Homo sapiens: one gene and its partners. The protein of the gene in region 1 interacts with the protein of each later gene in a pairwise test. Each region holds a gene or a part of one and is shown on either strand. Other genes may lie near its edges.

Region 1 (7,025 bases):
GGTGTTGGTACAGGAGCAGCCCCTACCCGAGCCAGTCCTCCCCGAGCAAAGTCCTGCTGCCCAGGATAGCTGCCTGGAAGCCAGAAAGAGCCAGCCAGATGAAAGTTGTCTGTCTGCTTTGCACAACTCCAGTGACCTGGAATTAAGAGCCACGCCGGAGCCAGCACAGACTGGTGTTCCCCAGCAGGTGCATCCCACGGAAGACGAGGCCAGCAGTCCCTGGAGTGTGCTGAATGCAGAACTTAGCAGCGGCGATGACTTCGAGACACAGGACGATCGCCCCTGCACCCTCGCTTCCACGGGGACCAACACGAACGAACTCCTTGCCTACACCAATTCTGCGCTGGACAAGTCCCTGTCCAGCCACTCCGAGGGCCCGAAGTTGAAGGAGCCGGACATCGAAGGGAAGTACCTGGGGAAACTCGGGGTGTCAGGGATGCTCGACCTCTCAGAGGACGGGATGGATGCAGACGAGGAGGACGAAAACAGCGACGACTCGGACGAGGACCTGCGGGCCTTCAACCTGCATAGCCTCAGCTCCGAGTCGGAGGACGAGACCGAGCACCCCGTGCCCATCATCCTCAGCAACGAGGACGGAAGGCACCTGCGGAGTCTGTTGAAGCCCACAGCGGCCAATGCCCCCGACCCACTGCCCGAGGACTGGAAGAAGGAAAAGAAGGCAGTCACGTTTTTCGATGATGTCACAGTCTACCTGTTTGACCAGGTATCTGTTCCCTCTAAATCATTTTCTATACACATCCATATAAGGATTCCAAAATGTGCTAGGAAATTGAGTGTGGTCTGTTTTCTAGTTGCCATTTTGAGGCAGCAGATTGTGATTACTCACAAAAAGTAATTTGGGGTTGGTTAGAGTTCTAAGAATATGCAGAAATGTCATTTGCTCAGGGAGTTCGTATTAAATTAAGAGAAAGAGACCCGAATGCTCTTCCTGGGTCTTCTAATGGAGTCTTCCTGAATTAGTCACCCTTTACACACCAAATTTTTACTGTTTTACTTTTTTATTTTTCTTTTGAGACAGCCTTGCTCTGTGGCCCAGGCTGGAATGCAGTGGTACAGTTGCAGCTCACTGCAGCCTTGAACTCCTGGGCTCAAGTGATCCTCCCACCTTCCATAATAGCTGGGCCCACAGGTTCATGCCACCATGGCTGGCTAAGGTTTTGGTGTTTTTTTTGTTTTGTTTTGTTTTTAATTTTTGTAGACACACGGTCTTGCTATGTTGCCTAGGCTGCTCTCAAACTCCTGGGCTCAAGCCATCCTCCCACCTCAGCCTCTCAAAGTTTTGGGATTACAGGCATGAGCCACTGCGCTTGGCCTCCAATTTTTAGAGCCTGACAATTGGCAGTAGGACCCACCACTTGGGTACAAGCCTGGAACCATGGCTGGCGTGCAGCCCTGGAGACAGCTCAGGAGAGGGGCCAACCAGAAGCCCTGCGGTGGGTGTCTGGAGGGTGTGACACACAGCAGGAGCGTCTGTGGTCCTTCTGCTCTGTCCCCTGACCTGTCCTCTTTCCCTGCTTTGGAGCAGGCAGCTTAGTGTGCACTGCTGAGTGGGCATGGATTTAGGCTCCTTTAAAAATGTAACAGCGGATAATTCAAGCATGCTTTAAAAAAAAAAAAAAAGTTCTTTTCATACTAGTCTTTGTAGCCCTTGAATTTGCTGCTTGCATCAGCTGGATTGTTGGGAGAGCTCAGTGGTGGGACATGAAAATGGGGTCCCCTCACCTTCTAGAAGGCGCAGGAGTCCTCGCCGTCTCCTTCACATTGCTTGCCCTCCCTTTTGCTCCATTCTGGGAACCCAGACCTTGGTCTCAGCCCCTGCGTGGCACCATCCCTCATGGGTCCGTGGCTATGGCGGGTCCAAGCACTGTTCCACCTCCTCCCCCAGGAGCTGCGTCTGTTGAACGTCACTTTATGCCTTGTTCCTCTGTGTTCTGTTCACTTTGGTTTTTATGATGTTTCTTTAAAAATCGTTAAATCACCCGCATTTGAGCTATAGCATATATGGCGGGGAAGTGGATGTTTAAAAAATGAAAAGTAAGGCCAGGCGCGGTGGCTTATGCCTGTAATCCCAGCACTTTGGGAGGCCAAGGTGGGCGGATCACCTGACGTCGGGAATTCAAGACCAGCCTGGGCAACATGGCGAAACCCCATCTCTACTAAAAATATAAAAATTAGCCAGTCACGGTAGGCAAGACTGCAGGCCCAGCTACTTGGGAGGCTGAGGCATGAGAATTGCTTGAACCTGGGAGGCAGAGGTTGCAGTGAGCCAAGATTGCACCACTGCACTCCAGCCTGGGTGACAGAGTGAGACCTGTCTCAGAAAAAAAAAAAAAAAAGCAGCCTCCTGAGCTCAGCCTGACCTCTTGAACCTGATTCTGCGAGGGGCCAGGAGGCCGTCTTTCTCTTTTCATTCCCCAGGTGGTTCCTAGGCAGATCTCGAACTCAGGAGCCTCTGAGCTCAGGGAGCCTGAGAAAACACGCTGCCGTTTTCTAGTAAGAGTGGAAGGGAGAAGGGATCACCTGGCCCCTCGGGTTTGTGTTTTGTTTTCAATGCATCCACATAGCCCTTTCTCCACCGTCTCTGTGAACTTGGATTATCGCTGCATTTCTCCATGGATGGGGTAATGTATAGGTGGGACGGAACTGTCAACTGTGCTCGGTGAGCAGTGCGGTTAGGAGCTAGGGAGCACGCTGTCCCCACTTCCTGAAAGCCTGGGGGTAGCTGGAGTAGTGAGAGGGACGCAGTCCCAGTGGAAGCAGCCTGTGGAGAAAACTCCCTGGGGCCGCAGAGTATGGGCCCCTTGCACAAGTCTTTGTGGAGGATGTTATGTTTTTCTGACTTTAGAAGACAGAATTGCAAAAGATGAAGATCTGTGACAAGGGCACTCTAGTTATGGGATGGAAGGTACAGAGATCAAATACCAGACATGCTTAATGGACGCGAGGCTTTGACAAGGAAGTTAGTGTCAAGGAGAAAGTCGGAAGGTGGGTCAGGGCCAGAAGAAAATGAGGAAGATCTTTCTGATGATCTGAAATTCGTTTGCTTATGCGTCTCATGCAGCATGCCTTGAAGCGACAGCCACCAAGCGTTCAGGCCGAGGACTGAGGGTTTCCTCCCACTCCTGCTTTCTTTTTTAATGAGCTGGTTTTGAAGTTGTGTAGTTTTTAAGCAGTTGAAGTATCTTGGCTCCAAACTTTTAACTGAGTGTTCATGGGATTGGGCAGCAATTGTTTCTTGGTTATATTACTATTTGTCAGTTCAGCAAATACTTAACCAGCACTTACCGTGTAAAGTAGTAAAGGCTGGTGAACAGTCTGTGGGTGCCAGCACCTTTATTATACATTGAGTCTTGTTTTGCTTCCCCATGTGGGGGTGGTTGTCACCATCTTCATGGAGAGGACCCTGAGGCTCAGAGTAGGTAAACTTTGCACAGGGTCTGGCCCCAGTGAGTAGCAGTGCTAGGGCTTGACCCAAGTCTCCTGGACCGAGCACAGAACTTTTCACCACTGAGCCCTGCCACCTCTTGCATGCACCTTTACAATCTGCAGCCTGGCATCGCATTCGACTTTTAGCACTTGCGATGTCCTTCCTCAGTGCACAGTGTTCTTGAGACAAAAGTAGCGGGTAATGATGCTTACTTGCAATTAGTGCGACAGGGTTCCCTCCAGCCTGATCCGTCATACTGTAAACAAGCACTGAAGGCTGGGCACAGTAGCTCATTCCCATAATCCTAACATTTTGGAAAGCTGAGGCAGGAGGATCGCTTAAGGCCAGGAGGTGAGACTGGTCTAGGCAGCATAATAAGAACCGATTTTTAAAAAATTGGCCAGTTGTGGTGGCCCGCACCTATAGTCTCACCTGCTCAGGAGGCTGAGGCAGGAGGATCGCTTAAACCCAGGAGTTTGAGAGTGCAGTGAGCTATGATTGTGTCACTGCACTGCAGCCGGGATGGCAGAGTGAGACCCTGTCTGAGAGGCTCCTGCTCTCCAGCTTTGAGGAATAAACATTCAGGGCTCCACCTAGGTTTTTTTGGTTGGTTTGGGTTTTGTTTGTTTGCTGGCACTGTCTTTGGTTTTGTTATCAGAGTAATTAATGCTGGTCTCATAAAATGAGTTGGGAAGTATTTCCTTCTCTGATAGTGTTTGGAAGAGATTATGTAGATTTGTTGATCTTTCCAAAAAATTGCTTTTGTTTTCATGGATTTTTTTTTCTTTTCTCTTTCGTTGATTTCTGCTTTGTCTTTATTATTTCCTTCCTTCTCCTTGCTTTGAATTTATTTTGCTTTTTCTAGAAAAGCTTAGAATTCGAGACCTTACTTCTTTTCTCCTTTTTTTTTTTTTTTGAGACGTCTCACTCTGTCGCCAGGTTGGAGGGCAGTGGCGTGATATCGGCTCACTGCAACCTCCGCCTCCCGCGTTCAAGCAATTCTCCTGCCTCCACCTCCTCAATAGCTGGGATTACAGGCGTGTGCCACCGCGCTTGGCTAATTTTTGTATTTTTAGTAGAGACGAGGTTTCACCATGTTGGCCAGGATGGTCTCAATCTCTTGACCTCATGATCTGCCCACCTCGGCCTCCCAGAGTGCTGGGATTACAGGCCTGAGCTACCGCGCCTGGCCTCTTTTCTCTTTTTTTGAGACTGGGTCTCGCTCTGTCGCCCAGGCTGTAGTAGTGCAGTAGTGCGATCTCTGCTCACTGCAGCCTCCACCTCCCAGGCTCAAGGGATTCTCCTGCCTCAGCCTCCTGAAGTAGCTGGGACCACAGGCGCCCACCACCGTGCCTGGCTAATTTTTGTATTTTTTGTTTCGTCATGTTGCCCAGGCTGGTCTCGAATTCCTGAGCTCAGGTGAATCTGCCTGCCTTGGCTTCCCGAAGTGCTGGGATTATAGACGTGAGCCACTGCACCTGGCCTCTTCTTTTCTAATAATTTAATGCTATAAATTTCCCTTTATGTACTACTTTAGCTGCACCCAGCAAATTTTAATGTGTGAGTTTTCGTTTTCATTCAGATCAAAAAGTTTTTTGTAAGACTTCCTCTTGGGAGCATAGATTAACAAGTATAGTTTAATATATTAGTTATAATTAATAATTACTAATAATTGGTTAATATAGTTTAATAAGTATATTGTTTAATTTCCAAGAGTTGGAGATTTTATTGTATCTTTTTGTTATTAAATTTTAGTCTAATTCCATTATGGGCAGAGAACATATTTAATATGGTTTCAATGCTTTTAAATTTGTTAAGGTTTATCTTAGAGCCAGGATATGGTCTTTCTTGGTGAATTATTCCATGTATACCTGAAAGAGTGTGTATTTTGGTTTTGGTGGGTGGATCGTTCTATAAATGTCAGATTTAATTTGTTGATGGTATTAGTTCTTCTCTGTCATTGCCGATTTTTCTGCATACTTGTTCTATTACTCAGAGAGAGGTTGTTGAAGTCTCCAGCTGTGATTTTTAGATTTGTCTATTTCTCTTTTCATTTCTGTTTATTTTCGCTTCCTGTATTTTGCAGCTCTGTTGATGCATATACATTGAGGATGATGATGTCTTCTTGCTGAATTGACCTTTTTATCCTTTCGTAATGTCCTTCTGTATTCCTTTGCCTTATATTCATAGAGCTGCTCCAGCTTTCTTTCTTTTTTCGGAGACAGTCTCACTTTGTCACCCAGGCTGGAGTGCAGTGGTATGATTTTGGCTCACTGCAGCCTTGAGCTCCTGGGCTCAAGCAGTCCTCCTGCCTCAGCCCCACAAGTAACTGGGACTACGGGTGCACACCACCACACACAGCTAATTTTTGTATTTTTTGTAGAGATGGGGTTTCACCATGTTGGCCAGGCTGGTCTCGAACTCCTGAGCTCAAGCAATCCGCCCGCCTCGGTCTTCGAAAGTGTTGGGATTACAGGCGTGAGCCACCGCTCCTGGCCACGTTGTTTTGGTTAATGTTTGCGTGGTGTATCTTTTGCATCCTTTTACTTTTAATCTACCTGTATCATTATATTTGACATGAGTTTCTTGCAGATCTTATAGTTAGATGGGGTTTTTAAAACTCTGTTCTGAAAAATCTGCCTTTTAATGGTATGTTTAGATCATTTACCTTTAATAAAATTATTGATATTTTGGATTTACGTATACCATTTTATTTGTTCTATTTTTATTTCTATTCTTCCTCTTTTTAATAAATTGAACATTTTTAGTATTACATTTTTCTTTTTCTTTTTTTTTACACTGTTCTCTTTGCGTAGTTTTTGTAGTGGTTGTTCTGGGGGTTACAATGTATGTATTAAACTTCTCACAATCTACTTAGAATCTGTATTTGCATATTTCAGATGGAATGTGGAAACCCTACTGTCACTTAGGCCTTTTGCCCTCCGTCCCCTTCTTGACATGCTCTTCTATGTTGCATACATGTACACTGATAACTCCTCAGACAGTGCAACACATTTGACTTTCTGTCATCAAACACATTCTAAGAAACTCAAGAGGAAATGAATAGTATTATACAGTTGGCCCTGGAGCAACATGGGTTTGAACTGTGTGAGTGTACTTATAACATGGCTTCTTTTCAACCCAAAACAGATCGAAAGCACAGTATTCTCGGGATGTAGAACCTGTGTATAGATACGGAGGGCTGACTTTTTGTATATGTGGGTTCCGCAAGGCTAACCACAGGACTTAGTATGCACAGGTGTGGTTATGCACGGGTGGTCTTGTCACTGATCTCTGTTCAGATCGTTTCTGGAGTTGTCCCTTGGTTTCCAAGAAGTGGTGGTTCCATAATTTGGATACCATAATTAGAGGCTGCCCAAGTGCTTTATATGAAATGGCATCATATTTGCATATAACCTACACACATCCTCCTGCAGACTTTCAGTCATCTCTAGATTACTTATAATGCCTCATACACTGTAAATGCTATGAAAATAGTTGTTATACTGTATTATTTATTTTGTTGTTGTTGTTGTTGTTGTTATACTGTTATTTCTTATTTGTGGTTGTTTCTGAA
Region 2 (7,025 bases), on another chromosome or scaffold:
ATGGCCAATATTAGGCTTTGAATTAAAAAACCTCTCCCTTGGCCAGGTGCAGTGGCTCATGCCTGTAATCCTAGCACTTTGGGAGGCTGAGGCAGGTGGTCTGCCTGAGCTCAGGAGTTCAAGACCAGCCTGGGCAACACGGTGAAACCCTGTCTCTACTAAAATACAAAAAATTACCCGGGTGTGGCAGTGTGCTCCTATAGTCCCAACTACCTGGGAGGCTGAGGCAGGAGAATCACTTGAACCCGAGAGGCGGAGGTTGCAGTGAGCCGGAGGTTACAGTGCACCGAGATCACACTACTGCACTCCAGCCTGGCGACAGAGTGAGACTGCATCTCAAAAAAAAAAAAAACAAAAAAAAAAAACACAAAAAACAAAAAACAAAAAAAACCTCTTCCTTTGCTTCCATCCAAATACAGTCGTGCATCATTTAACAATGGTGATGCATTCTGAGAAATGTGTTGTTAGGCAGTTTCTTCGTGGTGTAAACATCACAGAGTGCACTCACACAAACCTAGAATGGTATGGCCTATTGCTCCAAGACTACAAACCTGTTCAGATGTTACTGTACTGACTTGTAGGCAACAGTAACACAATGGTATGTATTTGTGTATCTAAACATACATAAACATAGAAAAGGTATGGTAAAAATACATTATTATAATCTTATGGAACCACCATCATATATGCAGTCCAAACATCATTATGCAGTGCATGACTGTATCTGCTATTAAGTAAAGTTGATGAACAGTAGAATTGAATAGTTTTATATTTTCTGGGTAGTCTAGTAGGAAGGCACGTAGAACAGTGCTGGGCACCTAAGGCATTCAATAAATATTACTAAATGAAAGGAAAGAAGGGAGAGAGGAAGAGAAAATGGGAAGGAGAAAAGATAAAGGGAGAGAAGGTAGGCCAGAGTTCAATTAAACCTGATTGTAATCCTGTCATTGTTAGGTGTTCCAGAAGAGTTATTTCTCTCTGTAAATGCTTCTACTTTCCCATCTACGTATCTTACATAAAGTCTGTAAGAATTATTTGCTGACTAAAAATGATGACATTTCAAGGAATAATTGTTGATAACAGCCAACCTAGAAACTTTGCCTGTCAGAATGTTGACTTCAATAACAAGCCTGAAGTACTATATGACATTGGCTATTGGTCTTCTAACTTCAGAAAACCAACAGACAGTTTCTGATCAGCATTTTCATACAATCTAAGTAAAGCAATACACATTTAGTCCTTAGAGTGCCTTAAAATTTTACTGCTAAAAATGCATAGTTTCACAATAACTATCTCATTCATTAAAATCAAATGCATATTAATCATCATAAATACACTAACAAGTCTAGAGCAGTCTCTGTTTTATAGTCTGAATTAATGTTGAAACTAAACATCTCATTGAAAAAAGAGCAATTAACCAAATAATTGTAGGAAATAATGAAATATTGTTAGAAGGGAAATTTCATAATTGTTTTTTAGAGATTCATTATAAAAATAATAAAGATTGGGTAATGGATCCACACTTTCAAATTTCTGCTTCTGCAGAACTATGGATCAAAACAAAACTCACTTTTCTTTTTGCTTCTTCAATAAATTCAAAACATTCTGGAAAATAAGACAGGATGTTGGTTTCAGGCAGATCCAATATAGAAATGCTCTTATATGTAAAGTCACTGAGGAAAGCATTTTCAACTCCATATGCAACATTAAGAATATGAGTCACCTTAAAGAGAAAGAAAAAAGATGATTGTTTTAAATCCCATGAATTAGGTTACCTAAAAAGAGACTGGGGTGTTGATATCTATAACAAGAAAGGTAAAAAATTTAAATGCGACTCACTTGAATGATAATACTGCTTCAATCCCACACCAGAAGTGCTCCTTCTACTATATGTTTTCTCTCTCTCTCTCTCTCTTTTAACTTATTATTATCATCATGCAGAGACAGGGTCTCTTTCTGTCACCCAGGCTGGAGTGCAATGATGCAATCATAGGCCACTGCAATCTTGAACTCCTAGGCTCAGGTGATCCTCCTGCCTCAGCCTCCCAAGTAGCTGGGACTACAGGCGTGTACCACCACACCCAGCTAATTTTTTTTTTTTTTTTTTTTTTCAGAGAAGAGGGGGGCGGGTCTCACTTTTTTTGCCCAGGCTGGTCTCGAACTCCTGGCCTCAAGTGATGCTCCCACTTCCGCCTCCCACAGTGCTGGCATTACAGGTATAAGCCACCACACCTGGCCTATATATTTTCATAGCCCTGGACTTGCCCTATTATAGCTCATGCCATTTAGAGATTGTTTTTCTCTTTCACTGCACTAGAAACTCCATGAGGGTAGGGACCATGTTTAACTTAGTGTTATAAGCGAATGAGCAGTGAGTTTAGCAGAAAATGCTTAAAATCTTTGTTGAATTAATCTGTGAATATCCATATAAAAACTTAAATAGGAGAAGTGTATCAGTGGTATACAACTTCCCTTTCAAGAATTATTTCCCTATTTTCCTTCATATTCTTTACTTTATAAAATGGTTCTCCAGGATGACTGCACATTAGAGTCACCTGATGAACTCTTAAAAACTATCAATAACACAGGGTCTCATACCCAGAGATTCTGATGAACCAATCTGGCTGAAAAGTAAGGGGAGGTGTGGTTGTAAAATATTTTCTTTCAGATGGTACACTTGAGCAACCTCCTCCTCTTGCATCTATGTATTTGAGCCCCTTTTCCTAGAGTCCACCAACCATGTGGAAGAAAGCCAGGCAGACAGTCCATTAAGATAATCCAAAGGCTGAGAATCACTTGAACCCAGGAGGTAAAGGTTGCAGTGAGCCACGATCATGCCACTGCACTCCAGCCTGAGCAAATGAGCGAGACTCTGCCTCAAAAAAAAAAAAAAAAAAAAAAAAAAAAAAAAAAAACCTAACAACCTTGTCCACATCTGTACTTCCCCTCTGCCTTCTGATTACAATGAAGGATGTGCTCGTGCATCTTCGATAAGGCTCATTCCAGAACCTGTGCTTGGAGTCACAGTGCTTCCTACTTTCTTGGCATCTCCCTATAGTCATAATTCTTGCTTTTCTGTATCTTCAATTCCTTCTTCTACCATCAGCCTTAAAACATGCTCAAAGCTCTCCCCTCCCCCTCCTCACCTATGGCTCCTCTCTCTCTTTTTTTTTTTCCCTTTGCCATCACTTCCTCACTTCTCAATCTTTTGCAATATGGCTTTGGCCTCCAATTCAAATGAAACTGTTTCCACCAAACGCACTAACAACCTCTCTGTCACCAAGTCCCATGGATATAATTTAGTCCTAATCGTACTTAAACTTTTACAGCATCTGACATTGCTGACTCTCTCCTCCTTAAAACACTATTCTCTTTAGTTTCCATGACACCATCTTTTTGTTTTACCTTCTTTGGGCCTCTTTTAGATCCTCCTTTCCCACTGCGGACTCTTCTTTGTTTGATCATTCCATATAGGGTGATATTCCTCAATTTATCAGTTCTGTGATAAGATTCTGTCATAGGCCCTCTTCTCTCTTACTTTACACTTTTCCCCAGGCAGCTTCATCTATTCTAATGGTTTCAGTAACTACTTAAAAGCTGAAGATTCCTAAATCTATATATTCACCTCTATTCTGAACTTCAGACCCTACATATCCACCCACCTAGATGATCCACATCACCCAAAACCTAACATGTTCAGAACTGAGCACACTGTTTCTCCTTCAAAGCCTGTTCCTTCTACGTTGCTTTCAATCTCATGGAACGATAACTTTACTTAGTTACCAAAGAAAGCTAGACATCAGCCTTGACTCCTCCTTCTCCCTTAGCCCCACTCCCTATCCTGCCTCATAAGTAATCAAATTTTAAGAATTCTACCCTCTAAAAAACCCCTCACATCTATCTAATTCTATCTCCACTAAATCTTAATCTCAGCCATTATCATCTTTTCCTTAGATTACTGCAATAGCTTTATAACCAGTTTCCCCCATCTCTAACTTGAGCAACCCTCCAATCGATTTTCCACACTGCTTCTAATGAGAAATCTTTCTGAACTGCAAATTTGACCTTGTTACATCTCTGGGTAACTTCTCAGTGGCTTTCCATAGTCTTTTGGATCAAGTCCACACAACTAACTTTGGCTTACATGGCCTTTTGTGATCTGGCTCATGCTTACCTCTCTCTCTGGCCTTGTCTCTTGGTGCCCTTCTTTCTCACACTCTCTATTCCAGGGTCACTGAACTTTTCTGTCCCTGAAAGCATCCACCTTTCTCTTGCTTCTGGGCCTTCACACATATCATTTATTCTGTATGAACACTTTACTTTCTTTTTTTTTTTTGAGATAGAGTCTTGCTTTGTCGCCCAGTCTGGAGTACAGTAGCAAAATCATAGCACACTGTAACCTCGAACTCCTGGGGTCAACCAATCCTCCTGCCTTGGCCTCCCAAAGCCTTGGGATTACAGGCTGTCTACTCCTTTCCTAGCCTCTTCAGAGAAATACTTCAATATCACTTCCTCCAGGAAGTCTCCCCTGACTCACTTATCCCCCCAAAAACAAACCAAACCAAACATGGGTTAAGAGCATCATCTCCTATGCACTTCTACAGCACCCTGCACTTCCCCATCAAAGCACACAAACGCTGTTCGGTAGCTGCTTGTCTCTCTTCTCTGTCTGCCCCTTAGGTCATACGCTTCAAGTGAACAAGAATCTCTTGCACTCCTTCACCTACAGCAATTCCATGACCTGAAACAGTACTCAAAAAAATGGTAGAGGGCTAAAAATCCTTTTGAGTAAATATGTAATAAATCACATCAGTTGTATGGAGTAGAGTGGCTGGAAATGGCATTACAGAAGACGTGGTATGTGAGTTGGGACTTAAGGTATGGACAGGTCTTGGACAAGCAGAGATGAGGGAAAGTCTATCCCACACAGAGGAACTACATAAACACAGGCAAGAAAGACATGCCTCCAAGGTCAGGTTCATGAGGGTACATGAAGGAGATCAAGAAGAATGTAAAACTGGAAAGACAGATTACAGATCCACATATTTGAATTATGTGCCAATTATTTTTCAACTCTATTGAAATGATAGCCAAAATGTTACCAAATAAACTCCATAATATACCAAAGATGGACCAATACAGTTTTTCCTAAATAAAACAATTAAAATATTCTGTGTATATGGTGCCAGACTTAAAGCATTTTTTTACCTTATTCTTTTTCAGTGTATCCAAATCATGAGCAGCATCTTGTGACCCTAGAAGAAATAAATGATACCACCTTGAACACAAATATAATCATCTTGAACTTTTATATAAATTTCTACAGCAATTCTGTTATTAAAAAAAAAAGACCAACAACTTGGAAGGACCTTAGTCCAACTTTCTGAAGGGCAATTTGATAACAGTCATCCTACATAAACTCCTGGACTCTGAAATCCTACTTCTAAAAATTTGTCCTAAAAGTTATAGATGTTGCAAAGATTAGCTGTAAGGATGTTCACCATAGTATTGTTTGTAATATAAACAAAACAAAAACAAAAGAACACTAAAAGCCCAATAATAGCTGTTGCATTAAATAAAAAATGGTATAATTGTGTAGTGAAATACATACAGCCATTACCACCATTAGAAATAAGAAATGTAAGCCTGAACAACATTGTGAGACCCTGTCTATAGAAAAAAAATTTTTTTTAATTAGCCAGGCATGGTAGTGCATGCTTGTATTCCCAGGTATTCAGAAGGCTAAGGCAGGAGGATCCCTTGAACCTAGGAATTCGGGGTTACAGTAAGCTATGGTTATGCCACTGCACTCCAGCCTCGGTGACACAGCCAGAAGAAAGAAAACAAAAGAAAAGAAAAGATAAGAAAAGAAAAGACAAGACAAGACAAGAGAAGAGAGAGGGAGGGAGGGAGGGAGGGAGGGAGGAAGGAAGGAACGAACGAACGAACGAACAAAAGGGAAGGGAAAGAGAGGGAGAGAGAGAGAAAGAGAGAAAGAAGAAATGTGGTAAAATATGTATAGCATGGAAACATGTTCTTGGCCAGGAGTGGTGGCTCCTGTCTGTAATCCCAGCACTTTGGGAGGCTGAGGTGGGTGGATCACTTGAGGTCAGGAGTTTGAGACAAGCCTGGCCAACATGGCACAACCCCATCTCTACTAAAAATACAAAAATTAGCTGGGCATGGTGGTGCATGCCTGTAATCCCAGCTACTCAGGAGGCTGAGGCACGAGACTTGCTTAAACCTGGGAGGCAGAGGTTGCAGTGAGCCAAGATCGTGCCACTGCACTCCAGCCTAGGTGACAGAGTGAGACTCCGTCTCAAAAAAAAAAAAAAAAAAAAAAGAAAAATGTTCTCAATGTATCTGGTTATAAAAGCAGGTTACAAAATACCATCATCCATTTTTATAACAACAAAAAATATGTATATGCTTAAAAAATGGAAAGGAGGTATACATAGAACAAAATGTTAACAATGGGGTTGCAGGTGATTTTTTTTTCTTCTTTATGCTCATTCTGACTTTTTACAATAAACATCTCTTTATTTTGTAACTTAAAAAAGGATATTACAAAAACCACACACCCACAAGATGACTTTGTGCCAGCTGGTTTGGGAACACCCAGTAGCTTAGAGCAAATGCTGTTGGTCTGCAGGATCCCACCCACACTCCATGTATCACTAGGGCTGTGCCCTTCTACAATCTCTTTCTGTCACAGCCGGCTTCCCAGATCTCCCACACTTGGAAACTGGCTCTAGTTAATAAGCAAGTTCATATGGAGAATAACTAGTCAAAATAAAGTGAGTTTCACAGTTTAAAGATTTCAAGTATTTTACTTTCCTGAATTAGGTTCTATTTCATAAACTTTTTTTTTTTTTAAGTTACCCATCTGGGAATTCAGCCAACTTTTATTATGTGATTTTAGGTGGCTGAAAGGCCAGCAAGTATGCTGTTTGGCCAATATCCTCTTGATAATACCAAGCTTACAGGTTCGCTACTGAGCTCACATTCAGCTTTATTATACTTAA
Region 3 (7,025 bases), on another chromosome or scaffold:
TTAATTTTCTAGAACAAACACAAATTTGAAAAAATTACTAATTGCATAAGCCACAATATGTTACATGAAAAAAGAAAACATGCTTTTGCAAAATATGTTCTCTGTATGTATAATGCAAAACTAAATCTCAAAAAAGTAGAAACATTTAATGCATATGACATGGTTGAAAATCCTAATTGTGTACAATTTTTTGCTGTGGAAAATTGTTAGTTTTTATATTTATTAAACAAACAATCCAGCAAGACTTGACTGCAGGCGATCACTAGGCTTCCACACTTAAAATGGACATATATTACCTAGAAAGCATAACAGGTAAACATTTATAATAAAAGAAATGTGTATGAAACATTCACCCTGAAAACACAACAAACAAACTTGTGTAGCTAAAGGGCTCACTGACTATATAGAGTTTTTCTTACATGGTTTTCCTACAGTGGTTTGTTAGGTAAAAATAACAGACTTTAAACACAACAGAACTTTACTTTTTTAACAGAAGATTTTTAAAGTGTCCTGTGGCAGAGTATCATGCTCTCCAAATTCTTGGACTGTCCCGATAATCTTGTATTACCTATTATCCTGGACTTGCCTCTCTTGACCATATCCTTCTACAATTTACTCAAGCAGTCATTACCTCTTTATCTAAAAGATGACTAAGGGAGACTCCTGCCTGAGAGGTAGATGAGACAGTCTTACTGTTATAACTGTCTAGGATTTAAAAAATATATATATACTTACTGATCCTTTTTGCTTATATAGGATGGCAGAAAAAAGATTATAGGAAAGTCTTAGGGTAGAGAGGGATTTGTTAAACAAGACACACACAGAAAGCATAAAACATTGAGCAATTTGACATGAAAATTCAAAACATCTATATATAGCATACCATAAATAAAGTGGAAAAGACAATAGGCTGGACAAAACCATTTGTAATATATATAACTAACAAAGAATTAGTGCCTGGCATATAAACAACTCTTACAAATCACTAAGAAAAAGGCAAATATGCCAACAGAAAAATGAGCAAAGGTTTGAACAGTCCATTCACAGAAAAGGAAAACCAAATGGCCAACAAATATGGAAAGTCATTTAACTTCATTTGTAATCATGGAAATCCAAAACTGAAAACAATTTAAATATTCATCCATAGCTGAATGGATAGACTGTGATATATTCATATAATATAAAGTTATATAGTAGTTACTAATAAAAAGATGAATAAAAGCTACATGTATCAACATGGATAAATGTCAAAACACTGTTGAGCAAAATGAAGCACATAAACAGTATGGTAACTTTTATATAGTTTTAAAACATCAGTTTCTTAAGCAGAGTGAAGGGTATATTGGCCTATACATTGTCTGTTTCCCTTTACAACTCATACAAACATTATAGATAGTCTTTGGTATTTTTTCAATACACAGTAAAAATATTTTAAGTCAAGAAAAACAGTATTATAAATTGTGATACATGGGTGAAGACTGGGTAAGAGTATAGAGGGTCTTCAAATAGATCTATGTTTTATTTCTTTTTTTTTTGTTTGTTTTTGTTTTGAGATGGAGTCTTGCTCTGTCACCCAGGCTGGAGTGCAGAGGCATGATCTTGGCTCACTGCAACCTCCGCCTCCCAGGTTCAAGCAATTCTCCTGCTTCAGCCTCCCAAGTAGCTGGGATTACAGGCATGCGCCACCATGCCCGGCTACTTTTTTGTTATTTTTTTAGTAGAGATGGGGTTTCACTGTGCTGACCAGGCTGGTCTCAAACTCTCCTGACCTGGTGATCCACCCGCCTCGGCCTCCCAAAGTGCTGGGATTACAGGCGTGAGCCACTGCGCCCGGCCTATGTTTTATTTCTTAAAACAAGAACAAGAAAGATCTGAGGCATATATAGTAAATGTTAAAATCCCACAAAAGCTAGCTGGTGGGTACACAGATAGTTATTATGTTTATCTATACGTTATGCTATATACTTCCGGTATTTTAATGTATTTTAAAATACAAAGAAAGTGATTCGAACTAACGTATTCAATCAAAGTAGGGATGACCTGATTTTGAAGAAACTGCTTACTTCAGAAGTTTATGTGCTGATTTACACCAACAATACAAATATTAGTCTAATCGTAAACTAATTTCACATTCCAAATATATTAGATACTTCAGAATACTTACAGATTCTAGGTCTTTAATATCTTTCTCTAATTGTTTATTTTGCTCATTCATATTCATAATTATATTAAATACAGACTGCCTAGGATGCAGTGTTCGATCAAATTGATGGTACATGTTCCTCCAAAACCTTTATGACAAAAAAAAGTTTCAATAAATTGTGTTTGAGAAAATTCAAGTATAAATACTCCAATGATGTCAACTTACTTAAAATTGAAAGATACTGTATTTGGCTCCAAAACTGTAAATCTGTGAGATTCGGAACTGTAGAGAGGATTTAAGTACTTCTTTTGGTCTTCCAAAAGAAATGGCCACAGGGAATAAGTCTTCTCCTTCAACCTTAATATAATGAGAAAAACACAGAGATCTTTCCTATAGATGCAAAGTAGTAATGGTAATATTCATTTTTATAAATCAGGCGATGGCTTCCGAAGCAGATTTAAATTTTAGTTTTTTCTTGTATTCACAGTCTAACCTTGTCTCAGAATTCTGTATTATCTCTATTCTCCTTTTTCATTCATAATTAGGTAATAAAGTCATGTTTCTTGAACACAACACAGGTATAACATTTTCTCTCACAACCATATATTTTAAGGGATTCCTCTCAACTCACACAATTTCAAAAACTTGGTCTCTGTTCCACCTACTTCAAATCACCACAAACATACACATAGAACAAGACACTAATGCATCTTTCTGTCTGGCCTTCTCTTAACCCCACGTCTGGGCCGTAGTGGCGAGTATCATAGGGCAGGAGCACACGTAAGTGTGAGTGGGTACAAAAAGGGAACAGGCAAAATCAGGATGTTATGCAAGAATTTTAAAAGCCAATTATTTTGCAAATCTAAGAGTAGCTGGGCAAAGGTAAGAATGGTTTTAGACTGGACATTTACCAAGTAAACATAATGTAGGTATCCAGGGGGAAAGTGGAAAATCTCCTGATTTTTCCATAACTCCTAAGATGACCCATAGGTGTGTCTTGGAGAAAAACTACTAGGAAATATCTACTTTTACTTCCATCTTTCCATTTTTGAGAATGTTTGGCACTAATTAAGAATAGTTTTTCCTAAAATAGCTCTGTACTCCAGGAAAAGAGTTACCTCTGTGCTCCAAATTATAATAAACTATTTTGAATCACTGTAACATAGAGCTAAAGCCTCAATGTTCTTTGATTGTTCATCTCCACCATTCTCTATTCACTTTTTATTCCCTTTACGCATTTTTAGAATTTTCCACATGCTCTCAGTTCTGCTGTTTACTCTGTTGGGAGTGTGAGCATGTGGCTATCTTCAAATACTACCAGATTTAGCTTCCTTAATATGTCCCTTGGATGTTCAAAAGTCTGTTAAGTGCTCTTTATTGCCTACTGTAAGAGGCAATAAAGAAATCCAAACTCAGAAGCCCAACCTAAAACAATATACATAGGACCTCTAAGACCTACTCCAGAGATCTTCCTTACAGCAAAATTTAGGCAAAAACCCCTATCCCCGAAGACTGGTCAGGAAATAACATGAACTAGGGTCAAGTAGTGTCTCAGGGCTTTTCTGAGACCCTACTCAAGGACGGACACGCTGCAGCCAACATAGCTAGATTTATTTTCCCCAAAGAACTGTCTGTTTAGAAATGTGGGGAGAGCTATAAGGCTCCATCCTATCTTAAAACAAACCAACAGTTTAAAATATTTTACACTTTAAAACTAGCGACTGATACATTCTGGGAAATTAAACAGCATAAGGATTTCTCTGTTCTAAAATATATAAATGCAGACCGAAAAGAAGCATGAGGAGACTTTCCAGGGTGTTGACAACATTTCATATTCTGGGTGCTGGTTACATAGGTGTGTGAGTTTGGTAAGATTTACTGAGCTTCACACTTAACGCTCTATGTACTTTTCTGTATGTATGCTACACTTCAAAACACATTTTATAATGTGCTTTTACTATTAGCTGAAAGGTGGGGGAATATTAGAAGGGTACTCAGCTTTAGAAATACAAAAAATAAAATCTTTACAATAAACTTTCAAATTGTCAAGATATTTTATTAAGTTTCAAACATGATTTTTGTTAGACCTCGGCTAAGTAGGGGGAAAAGGAGACTCTTTTAATTGAATCATCTTACTTGAGCTCTTCTCTTTCCTTCTGACAATTTCCAAGGAAGTTTCCAAACTGGCATGAATGAATATGCTCATGGATCTGAAGAAGAAATGCTTCACTGAATTCAAAGGCTTGTGGAAACTGTTCGGTCAAATGCCACACACATTCCAAGAACTGAGTAAACACTGGTGAGACTTCCTTTGGGTCACCATCCAACTGGCCACACCTAACCCCACAGAAAGTATAAGCTTTTAAAAACACCTCTGAAAGGTCCATTGTTCAGGTATTGTTAATCTTAAACATACAAAAATATTCCTAAAGCACTGTTACATTAGCATGCAAAACTAGAATTTTTATTGAAACCATTTATGAGTTTTTAAACCACAGCTTTAAAGGATCTGTTACCATCTCTAAATAAAATGCAGCCCAAAAGGAAGGTAATAAATAGTCATGAAAATTAACAAGCGTACTAGAATTGAAAGAAATTACAGAAAAAAATTAAATGTCTTTACGTAAAATACAGTAAAAACCATGACACTCTTACCTCCCATCACGCATGTGAGTTCATAAGGAACAGAAACATTTTGGCATTCTAAACTTGGTTTACTAATTTTATAAAATATATGACTGTGTAACTGTGACTCACCTCTCTGAAAATTTATGTCCAAAAGAGATCCAATCCTTTTCTATTAAAACCTTAATGAGAAAAAGTAAAATTCACTTTCTGACTACTTTCAATTATTTTGTTTAGGCTGGATTAAATCTTATTAGTTTAAAAACAGTATTTACTGTACACTTTTAACTTATAAACAAAACAGCACAAAAAACCACAGGCAAAAGAATGCCAAAACCTTGATTCGAGGTGGGGTTAAAGAAGAATAAAAATGCATAAAAAGAAATAGAGTAGTTTCGTGACTTAAATTATTTCCGTTGAATTTATTACATTTTAAGTGAAAAGTACATGTTATAAAGCAGTATTACATTTAAGTTTTTGTATGTATGAAGATGATATATCATAGGAAAAAGGCTAGAAAAATGTAAACCAAAACTGCTAACAAAGGATAACTCTAGGTGGTAGACTGAGGTGGATATTTTAAAACTTTTGGCTTACTTGTACATTTTTTATATTATTTATATACTACTTTTTTTAAGAAAAAAAAACTAATGATAAAAAGACCAATTATTTTAATCAAATCATCTTACTTGAGTTCATGTTCAGATCCAAGTGTTAACATCTATCCTCTTGAATGGACTGACTTTATGTTTTCCTTGCCACAGCTTCTCTACTTACCCACTCCACTGTAAAAACAGATTTCTAACTTTTTCAGTCTAATCTAAACACATATTTGTAGTATTTAGTACACTTTATCACTTAACTATACAGTCACCAAGCACATTATTTTCATAGTGTCAAAACTGCTGGTTTTAGCTTCTCTGATTTTGTCTCAAGCCTCTGCTTTCCGCAGAAGGCTATACACTGATGTGGCTGAGGATGTAGTCGCTGGAGCTCAGGCACAGGCTCCAATCCCAGCTTCACCACTTTGTGTGACCTTGTGGCTGGAGCCACAGATTTTATTCTGGTCTCTCTGCCATTCTTCTACAAAACCATGTTTAAAGCATAACTCAATATCTTTCTCACTAAATGTATTCTTTGGCTTATCTCAGTGAAGAGCCAGAGAGCAGCACCATCCATCCTGGCACCTAATTCAGAAACTTGGAAATCATCCCAGAGGAAGACTCCTCTCTTCTATCCCACATCCAATCCATGATCAATTCTTCCTGACTCTACTTTCTTTTTTTTTTGAGACAGGGTCTCACTCTGTTGCCCAGGCTGGAGTGCAGTGGCGCAATCTTGGCTCACTGCAACCTCCGCCTCCTGGGTTCAAGTAATTCTTCTGCCTCAGCCTCCTGAGTAGCTGGGATTATAGGTACACATCACCATGCCCGGCTAATTTTTGTATTTTTAGCAGAGACAGGGTTTCACCATATTGGCCAGGCTGGTCTCGAATTCCTGACCTCATGATCCACCCGCCTTGGCCTCCCAAAGTGCTGGGATTACAGGCGTGAGCCACTGCGCCCAGCCACTGACTCTACTCTCTAAACATCCCTGGAACCCATCACCTCCCCCTTCACTTGTGTGTTACTATTTTAGTTTGGTAAAATTAAAAACTTTTGTCTCATAAGTTATCATAATAGTGTCTACACTCGCCTCCTAGCCTCCATTCCCACTCCCTTTGGCCTTCAAGATACCAAGCCACCTTTTTAAAAAGCACATCTAATCAAGTTACTGTTTGCTTGTTTAAAACTCTTTAATAGCTCCCATTATCCAAAGAGGGGAAAGCCCCATTCCAGCCTTCTCTTTCTCAGGCCCTGACCCCACTCTATTCCTCTGCCTCCAAGCCCCCTATTCTAATACTCACTCTGAACTCCATCCATCACACATTACCTGCAGTCACCCAAAGAGGTTATGCTTTGATTTACACTGTTCCTATTGCCTGGGAAGCTCTCACATCATCCCCATTTATTACATGATTTCATTTGGATGTCTAACAAATAATTAAAGCCAAACATGGCAAAGAAAATATTCCTTATCGTACACTCTCAAGGTAAGCTGAGCATTATTTTCTTATTAGCAGCACTCCCGCTTGGCCTGTCCCAGAGTCGGTATGTTAGCAGCAAAAAATAGCGGTGCTGAAAAGGGACTGGTGATTTTAAATCTTCCTTTGCTTTAAGATGGCACTGTATTTAATAATTCAAGACTAATGAAAATT
Region 4 (7,762 bases), on another chromosome or scaffold:
ACAAAAGGTAGTCTAGTAAAGGCACTGTTAGATACTTTGCTTTTTTTCTCTTTAGGTTAATTTTTAAAATTTCAATAGTTTTTGGGGTACAGATTATTTCAGGTTACATAGATGAGTTATTTAGTGGTGAATTTTGAGATTTTGGTGCACCCGTGTAAGAATATTCTTATACAAATCTGGCTTCAATTTTGGATGATTAGAGCTCTAAGAAACTCTAGCTTCTTAAATCCCTGGAAAAAATTCCAAGACATAAATTATTTGTGGATTCCAGCAAAGTATTTTCAAGAACTCTCAAGAGATTTTAGTGGACATGATGGAGAAAACTCAGCTGGTGGTGAAGGTAACAGTCTGGATTGTTACTCAATGGGTAGTGACTTACATGAGGAGGGCCAACTGGGAGATATTTTGTTATTCAACTATCTGAATCTTAGTTACAAGGTGTTAAATGGGGATAATAATGCCTGTCTCACAGGGTTGGTGTGAGAATTCAATATGATGTGGATGTAAAGTCTTTGGCACAAATCCTGACATGCAGTTATGAATAAATACTGAGTTACTGTAATTTGGTGACAAATATGGGCTCCAGAGTCAGTTGGGCTTGGTTTCAAATGCTGGCTCTTCTACTTTCTAGCTTGGTAGCAAATTACTTGGTCTCTCTGGAACTCAATTCTTTCATTGATAAAATGGCATTAACAGCTCACAAGAGTTTTATGAAGATAAAAGATAATAGTATGAAAGCATCTAGCACACTGACTGGCCTACAGCCAAATGGATATTTACTGAATGAATGAGTGGGCAGACGCCCAATAAATGACTATTACTCTTGTCAGGCCTCTGGGCTCTGGCTTCACTCTGTTCTGTTCAAATTTCTCATCAGTGGCCTGATGAGATATATAAGGTAAGTCTGTTGGAAGTCGTGGGTCACATGAATCTCAGGGGAATAACAGAGACTGTCAGGGCAGGATCCAAAATGACACCTTTCCCTCTGAAAGAAGGCATATGGTTTAACATGGGACCCAAAAGTTTGGACCCCCAGTGATAATTAGTGTAAGATGAAGGGGGATGTAACGTGAAAGCAGCAGAGGTGAAAAAGACTCACATGATTTAGTCAGCAATAAAGCAAAAATATGCAAATGACCTAAGCTACATTATTAGAAATTTTCTTGTCTGACTATGAATGTTTCCTTCTTCATACTATTAGTATGATAGTGATGGACCAGAATATGACCTGTGGTGAACAATAATGACAGTGGACCCCAGACTATATCACTACAGATGTACTGAGCAAATCCAATATGAAAAAGTACAGGTTGTAAGCTGGATAAGCCAGTTGACAAATATCTAATTGAAAAATGGGTTCTTGATGTATAAAATAATTCACTACTAGAATTAAACAGTGAATTCCTCTAAGTATGCTTCAAATGTGATTTATCAGAATTTTTCAGATGTTACTACATCAAAAAGGTGTATTTGACTAGTTTACTGTTTAATAAAAAGCAGTATGATTAAAGAACAATATTAATTTCACTTATACACCATAAAAAAAGCAAATATCTTATGTTTTCTACTGAGCTGACAACTTGTACCACTTTTATTAGGGTAGACTGAAGGGTATTTGTATGAAAATGTGACCTTTCATATAGAATATAGGAATAACATAAAAGCTAAAGCTTACCTACATGAAACTGAAAAATTACACATGTACATCATAATTTTCTCAAATTTATAGCTGAAGTTTTATTATTTCTAAACATTTCTGAAATTTAAGAGCTATCTAATTATCCATTTCTTCAATACACTTTATATATATCATTTCACTTAATTAAAAAACCCTATGGTTTTGGTTTTATTATTTCCACCTTACAGATAAAGAAACTGAGGGTCAATAGGCCAAGATCACACAGCTAAGGCAAAGCCAGAACTGACTGGCAAAGTGAGGTCCTGACTTCAAAGTCCCACACTGCTCCTCCCACACTTCAGGGCTCCTGGCTCACACAGAGTGTCCTTCCTGTATCCAACAGAGCTATGAAAGACCAACAGGATCACTCACCAGGATGAGTAAACCCCCTTAATGGCTTGCTCCTGCTCACTCCAGCGGGCTGGGTTCTCATACTTGCAAGCTCTACCGCCACACGCCATGGAACATGCCATGTGTCCAGGAATGACATGCCGTAAACGCTCCCCTACTTTTGTGTACTTTGGTGTTGGACGTTCTAAATTTCCTAGAACATATAAGGAAAGGAAAATTCAAAATTCCACTCTCCAAATGAAATTGTAACATGGGAAATAGCTTCCATTTTATCTCAGGATGGTAGATGACAAGCCAGTGCAAAATCACCTTCATCTTGTCAAGAAAACAAAACTGTTTCCCTGTCAAAGTGACATATATCTCTTAATGTAAAAAAGCTTTCACATATAATAATCTCCACACATACTGGCAATTAGGAGGAAGAAACTGTAGAAGCAGATGTTTTACAAGAGAATGAGTTTTGTTCAAACCTATATTTTTAATAAAAAAACACAAAACATTTGATCATTTTATATCCTCTTATATATTCACTAAAATAGCATAACAGACAGCAAAAAGTATAATATAGAATAAACTGCCAATATTTAAAAAGGTATAAACACAACACAGCTGATTCCCATTCCTCAAACTTATATACATAGGTATGGCAATCTATAAGAAGAAAGAGACCTTTACTTTTTCTTTCGGGGAAAGTTGGGTTTCCCTCTGCATGGCTGACTGAGGAAACAGCCACCATCACCTGGAGAGAGGACGAGGACAGCAGCTTCGTGGCAGAGCCGGAGCCCAAGCCAGAGCCCCGCCGGGCCTGCTGCAGCCGCAGTACTGGGTCTGAGGTGGAGTGCCGGCGGCCCTGGAGAAAGGAGCTGAGGAAGCGCACGGCTGAGGGCCGCCTGGTTGCATCCTGCACCTGCATGGCACTGGGAGGCAAGAGCCGGAGGCAGGAAGAGTCAGCCCCACTCACTCAGTGAGGAACTTTCACTGAGAGCAGGGAGCATTGCATCGTTCTGTATGATCTAAGAGCCATTCAGATTGGCTGACTGGTTTCCATGGCGACAAACAAAGAAACTACTGATTCCCACTTAGATCTGAACAGGCAAAATCCAATATGAACAGATTGCATTTTGGACAAATTGTTCAAATATAGGGAAGAATAATATAAATTTTAAATATATTGATTACTAAATTTTGTTTCTCAAATGCACTTAAAATATCTAACCAAAGAATTACTCCCCAAAATACTGTAGTGAATTTAGAAAACTGTCTTCCTGATGCAAAAACTGCCTTTTACATACATGTTAAAAGGCTTAAATTCTGTTATTCTGTTCACAACCTGTCTCTGGATATTTTGAAAAAAATTACCTTTCTACTCCTCGTTTGAATAGTGCAGAAAAAAGTTAATTGTAATAAAGTGGGATATGCTGGACACCTTACAAGATTATTAAAATATCATCCAATTTTTCATAACCAAAACCACTTCTATTTTTTCTTGGTAAAACTATTAAAGAAATACTTGGATAGAACAAATAAAGACATTTTTAGAGGTGATATATTATCAGAAGACATTTAACTTCATGTGTTCATTTTCAGAATATAAAAACCCAATTCTTAGTTATGCCTCTGTTGGACAGTTATAGTAGCCATGCCTCTCAAAAACTCAAAACACCATTCTCTGCCTTTTGTTGCAGTGAGGGAAAAAAGAAGCTTCAATAATGTCTTGGCAGAGGCATACAAAGAAAGATCACTAAATATCACATTTTTAAAGGAACTAGATGAGGGGGAGGTTGCAACTTGAAGATAAAGGATATAAAGAAAACAGAAAGTGCAACAACCACTAATGTACTCATTGTCCGCCTCCTCCCTTGTTAATGTCAGGCTGCGCCCTCGCTTGCTCGCTAGCTCTCTGCACAAGTGGTATTTCAGATGTGTGTGCACAGAAACAAACTACTGTACTGCTACAGATAAGGCTATTTTCTATTTTTTTTTTTTTAACGATTACTAATGCTATACCAAGCTCCTTTTAAAATGCCGCCCCCATCTCCCCAGTAATGTGCACTTTTGTCGAATAAGACAGGGACACAGAATCCCGATTTGGTGTCCAAATTCCTACTCTATGTATAGTATCATGCCTTTGTTATTTAGAATGCAGCCATGGAAGAAAGCACAGCTTTCCTGTCGGAGGAATTATATGAGGATTATTCTAGGCAAGGCCCTCAGGACCCTAAGGGCAACACAGAAACAGCAGTTGCACAGAGGTCTGCATGACAAGAACATGAACTTACTGGCAGGAGGCCCTAAATGCTCAAACTAAGGAGCTGTGTATTTGCTATCTGTGTAAGAGGGAGTCTAAGAAGATTTCTGGGCAAGTCTGTGCTTCTGAGTATGTGGCACTCCAGAATGTTAACTTAGCTCTTGAGAAACAAGAGTGGTGAGCTCTGCAGAAACAAGTCCATGGCCTGGAGAACCAGCATCTGAGGACATCTACAGAGAAAAGTCAAAAGTAACTGCTTTCAACTACACTAAAAATGACAACTAATTTCATTAGATAAGGGGTAGGGGTAGGACTTATTTGGACCAAGCTAAGGAAGGGATGGTTTATAGATCACCTCAAGAATAATCTCTGTGGTGAAATCTTGAGCCCTGGGTTGACCTCAAATAAACACAAAATGACTGAGCTTACCCCAGTTACCGTACAGTCAGTGACCCTGTGTCAATGTCTAAGGAAGTCAAGCCTAACGCAAACAGGATTCTGCAAGGTGAAAGCAGCCCTTTCTGCATGCTTGCTCAGTGTTCCCAACAATGAGGTGCTGTGAATATACCTTGCATTGATGAGGCAGATGAAAAGAAATGTACCCACCTCTGGACACGAGAACCAAATTTAGAATAATATTTAAGGAACAAAATGAGATACTGATCATGACAAATATGAAATCAGTTACAATAAACACAACAAAGAAACCCACTAAAATGTACCAGTGAGTACTGAGTCTTTTCTTCCTTAATTTCTATAAGTGGGCAGGTAAAACACTGAAAAGTGAGATCTAGAACACCAAGAACTAGTAATTTCCTTCTATACTCAAGATTTCAGAAAGGGATCATTGCTTCCTAAAGTCATAGAACAATAGGCTGAGAATGCAGTGGGTGCCTGGTGGGCGTGGGAGGCCCACCTATCCGCATTCTTAAGTCCACGGAGGAGTTACTTCCAGGAATTTGCTGTACAGCTGAATTTCCAGCCTCGTGTTCTCTACTTTTTGTGACAAGAGGCTCACTTTTCACAAGGGAACTGACTATTCCACTGTTAGACAGCTCAAATGTTTTCTTTCCTTCCTTCTTTAGAGATGGGAATCTCACTTTGTTGCTTAGGCTGCACTCAAATTTTTGGGCTCGAGGGCTCCTCCTGCCTCAGCCTCTTGAGTAGCTGGGACTACAGATGCCTGCCAACACGCTGGGCTTCAAATGTTCTCTAGTGTTGAGTTAAAATCCATTCTATAAACATCGGTTCTGGTTCTTCCCACTGAAAATAAAGAATAAAGCTTCTCTTTGTCTTGAAAGATTTTCAAATATCCGAAGACAGAACTTTTCCAAGACTTTCCCTATTTCTGTTTTTCAAACATTCCTAGGTATATGTAATTGTTTCCAGATCTTTCACTATAATTTCCCTTCTTCTGAGGGCCCTTCTTCTCTCCCCTTCATAGCTAAACCTCCAAACCAAGGTGACTACACCTGCCATCTCCACGTGTCACAGGTCTCATCCTTAGCCTACTCAGCTCTGGCCTCTGCCTCCACTCTCAAATCAAACCACTCTTGCTAAGGCCTCCGATGATCTGTTTTGAGGTGGACTTTTTAGAGTTTCTATTTGACTGTGCAGCAGCATGCAACACAATCGAACACTTTAGTTTTAATTTTTAATTTTTTTTTAAAGACAGCACCTTGCTCTGTCACACAGGCTAGAGAGCAGTGACGTGATCATAGCTCACTGCAGCCTTGAATTCCTAGGCTCAAACAATCTTCCTGCCTCAGCCTCTCTGGTAGCCAATATGACAGGTGCCTGCCACCATGCCTGGCCCATATATTTTTGAGAATATTTTATATTTTTACTTTGAATCAATGTCAAACTTACAGAAAAGTTACAAAAGTTACAAATAATATTTTTCCTTGGCTGGGCATGGTGGCTCATGCCTGTAATCCCAGCACTTTGGGAGGCTGAGGAGGGCAGATCACCTGAGGTCAGTAGTTAGAAACCCACCTGGCCAACATGGTGAAACCCAGTCTCTACTAAAAATACAAAAATGGGCTGGGTGTAGTGGCGCATGCCTGTAGTACCAGCTACTTGGAAGGCTGAGGCAGGAGAATTGCTTGCACCTGGAAGGCAGAGGTTGCAGTGAGCTGAGATTGCACCACTGCACTCTAGTCTGGGTGACAGAGCGGGACTGTCTCAAAAAAAAAAAAAAAGAAAAAGAAAAAGAAAAAAAGAATATTTTCCCTTGAATTTTTTAGAGTAACTTGCAGAAATGCTGCCCCATTACGCCAAATAATTTAGTGTATATTTCCCACAAAGATATTCTTGAAAATTACCCCAAATCAGGAAATTATGGTTGAGATATTACTACTTGCCCTCTATTCCTCAGACCTCATTCAAGCTTCACTGATTACTCCAAAAATGTTCCTTACAGTAAAACGACATGTTGTATTTAGTTGTCCTGTTTCTTTCACCTATTTCACACTTGAACAAGTTCCTCAGTCTTTCCTTGACTTTGATGACCTTGACACTTTTGAAGAGTATAGGCCAGTTATTTTGTAGCAATCTCTCTCAATTTGGGCATGCAGTTTCCTCATGATTAGACTCGGAAGCCCTTGCATTTATTAGTAAAGAACGGTATCTAGAAACCAATGTCTGTGTGTTAGGTATGCTCATTGCCATTAGAGTGTTACTGCTGCCAGGCCCTCTCAGTGGACAGTGCTAAAGAATATGGATATTATGCACAGGCACATACATTATCACACTTTACATCTATATTTATTCCCATATGTAGGCATATATACATATGGAAAACCAAGAGTTTACCCTGATGCTACCAATTCCAAGCCAACACCACAGAGTTCCTCTAATTTCCACCCTTTCCACAACTGTACCTATAATTATAACTCTGTGAGAAGCCTGGGCACAGTAATCTTTAATATATTTACCTAATTGACCAAGCCCCCTACATGTAACCAGTCTCCCATCACTACCTCTGCTCCCTCCTCCATGTGGATGCCTCTCTCATCCCATCTGGGCTTTAACACCTATGCCAAGCTGCTGCTGCCACCCACCTGGGTAGATGCTCTCCTCATCCTGCCTATGTTCCAATATTCCATGTAGGGTCACCCTGCCACATGGAGCCCTCCCAACCTGACCCAAGCTCTGATGCCTGGGAATGTTCTAATAACCTGGGCCAGGTCACTCTCCCACACAGGTGTTATCTGGCTCAGGCTTCGCCACTGCTGGGCTGCTCTCCCATATGGATTTCCTCCTCACCCTGGCTGGCTTCTCCCAAGTGCCCCTGCTCCACCTCATCTGTAGGTCAAAGATTCCACACTTAGGCAAGCCAAGAAGACCAGAAGCTATCATTCCTGCTCACCTTGCAAAGTAGGGGGATCACTCAGAGAAGTGGGCTGTTGTCCCCGCCTCAAGCTCCAGAGACATGGCTAGTAGACTTCAGCCAGAAGGAGAAGCAGGCCTTAAAAACAGAGAAT

The links.
Region 2: the proteins of LMTK2 (region 1) and DUSP19 interact in a two-hybrid assay, tested with the Homo sapiens proteins (one study listed by BioGRID and IntAct).
Region 3: the proteins of LMTK2 (region 1) and MTMR6 interact in a two-hybrid assay, tested with the Homo sapiens proteins (one study listed by BioGRID and IntAct).
Region 4: the proteins of LMTK2 (region 1) and PTPDC1 interact in a two-hybrid assay, tested with the Homo sapiens proteins (one study listed by BioGRID and IntAct).

The regions. Positions count from the first base shown.
Region 1 is NC_000007.14:98,193,849-98,200,873, forward strand, and holds part of LMTK2 (serine/threonine-protein kinase LMTK2 precursor), read left to right. Parts: coding exon 1-724; intron 725-7,025. UniProt on the Homo sapiens protein: Phosphorylates PPP1C, phosphorylase b and CFTR.
Region 2 is NC_000002.12:183,081,738-183,088,762, reverse strand, and holds part of DUSP19 (dual specificity protein phosphatase 19), read right to left. Parts: intron 5,256-7,025; coding exon 5,209-5,255; intron 1,724-5,208; coding exon 1,571-1,723; intron 1-1,570.
Region 3 is NC_000013.11:25,249,485-25,256,509, forward strand, and holds part of MTMR6 (phosphatidylinositol-3,5-bisphosphate 3-phosphatase MTMR6), read right to left. Parts: intron 5,589-7,025; coding exon of another isoform or gene 5,538-5,588; exon of another isoform or gene 4,965-5,537; intron 4,951-4,964; coding exon 4,901-4,950; intron 4,481-4,900; coding exon 4,280-4,480; intron 2,501-4,279; coding exon 2,369-2,500; intron 2,292-2,368; coding exon 2,165-2,291; intron 9-2,164; coding exon 1-8. UniProt on the Homo sapiens protein: Lipid phosphatase that specifically dephosphorylates the D-3 position of phosphatidylinositol 3-phosphate and phosphatidylinositol 3,5-bisphosphate, generating phosphatidylinositol and phosphatidylinositol 5-phosphate.
Region 4 is NC_000009.12:94,079,711-94,087,472, reverse strand, and holds the start of PTPDC1 (protein tyrosine phosphatase domain-containing protein 1), read right to left. Parts: upstream 3,010-7,762; 5' UTR 2,943-3,009; coding exon 2,699-2,942; intron 2,223-2,698; coding exon 2,051-2,222; intron 1-2,050. UniProt on the Homo sapiens protein: May play roles in cilia formation and/or maintenance.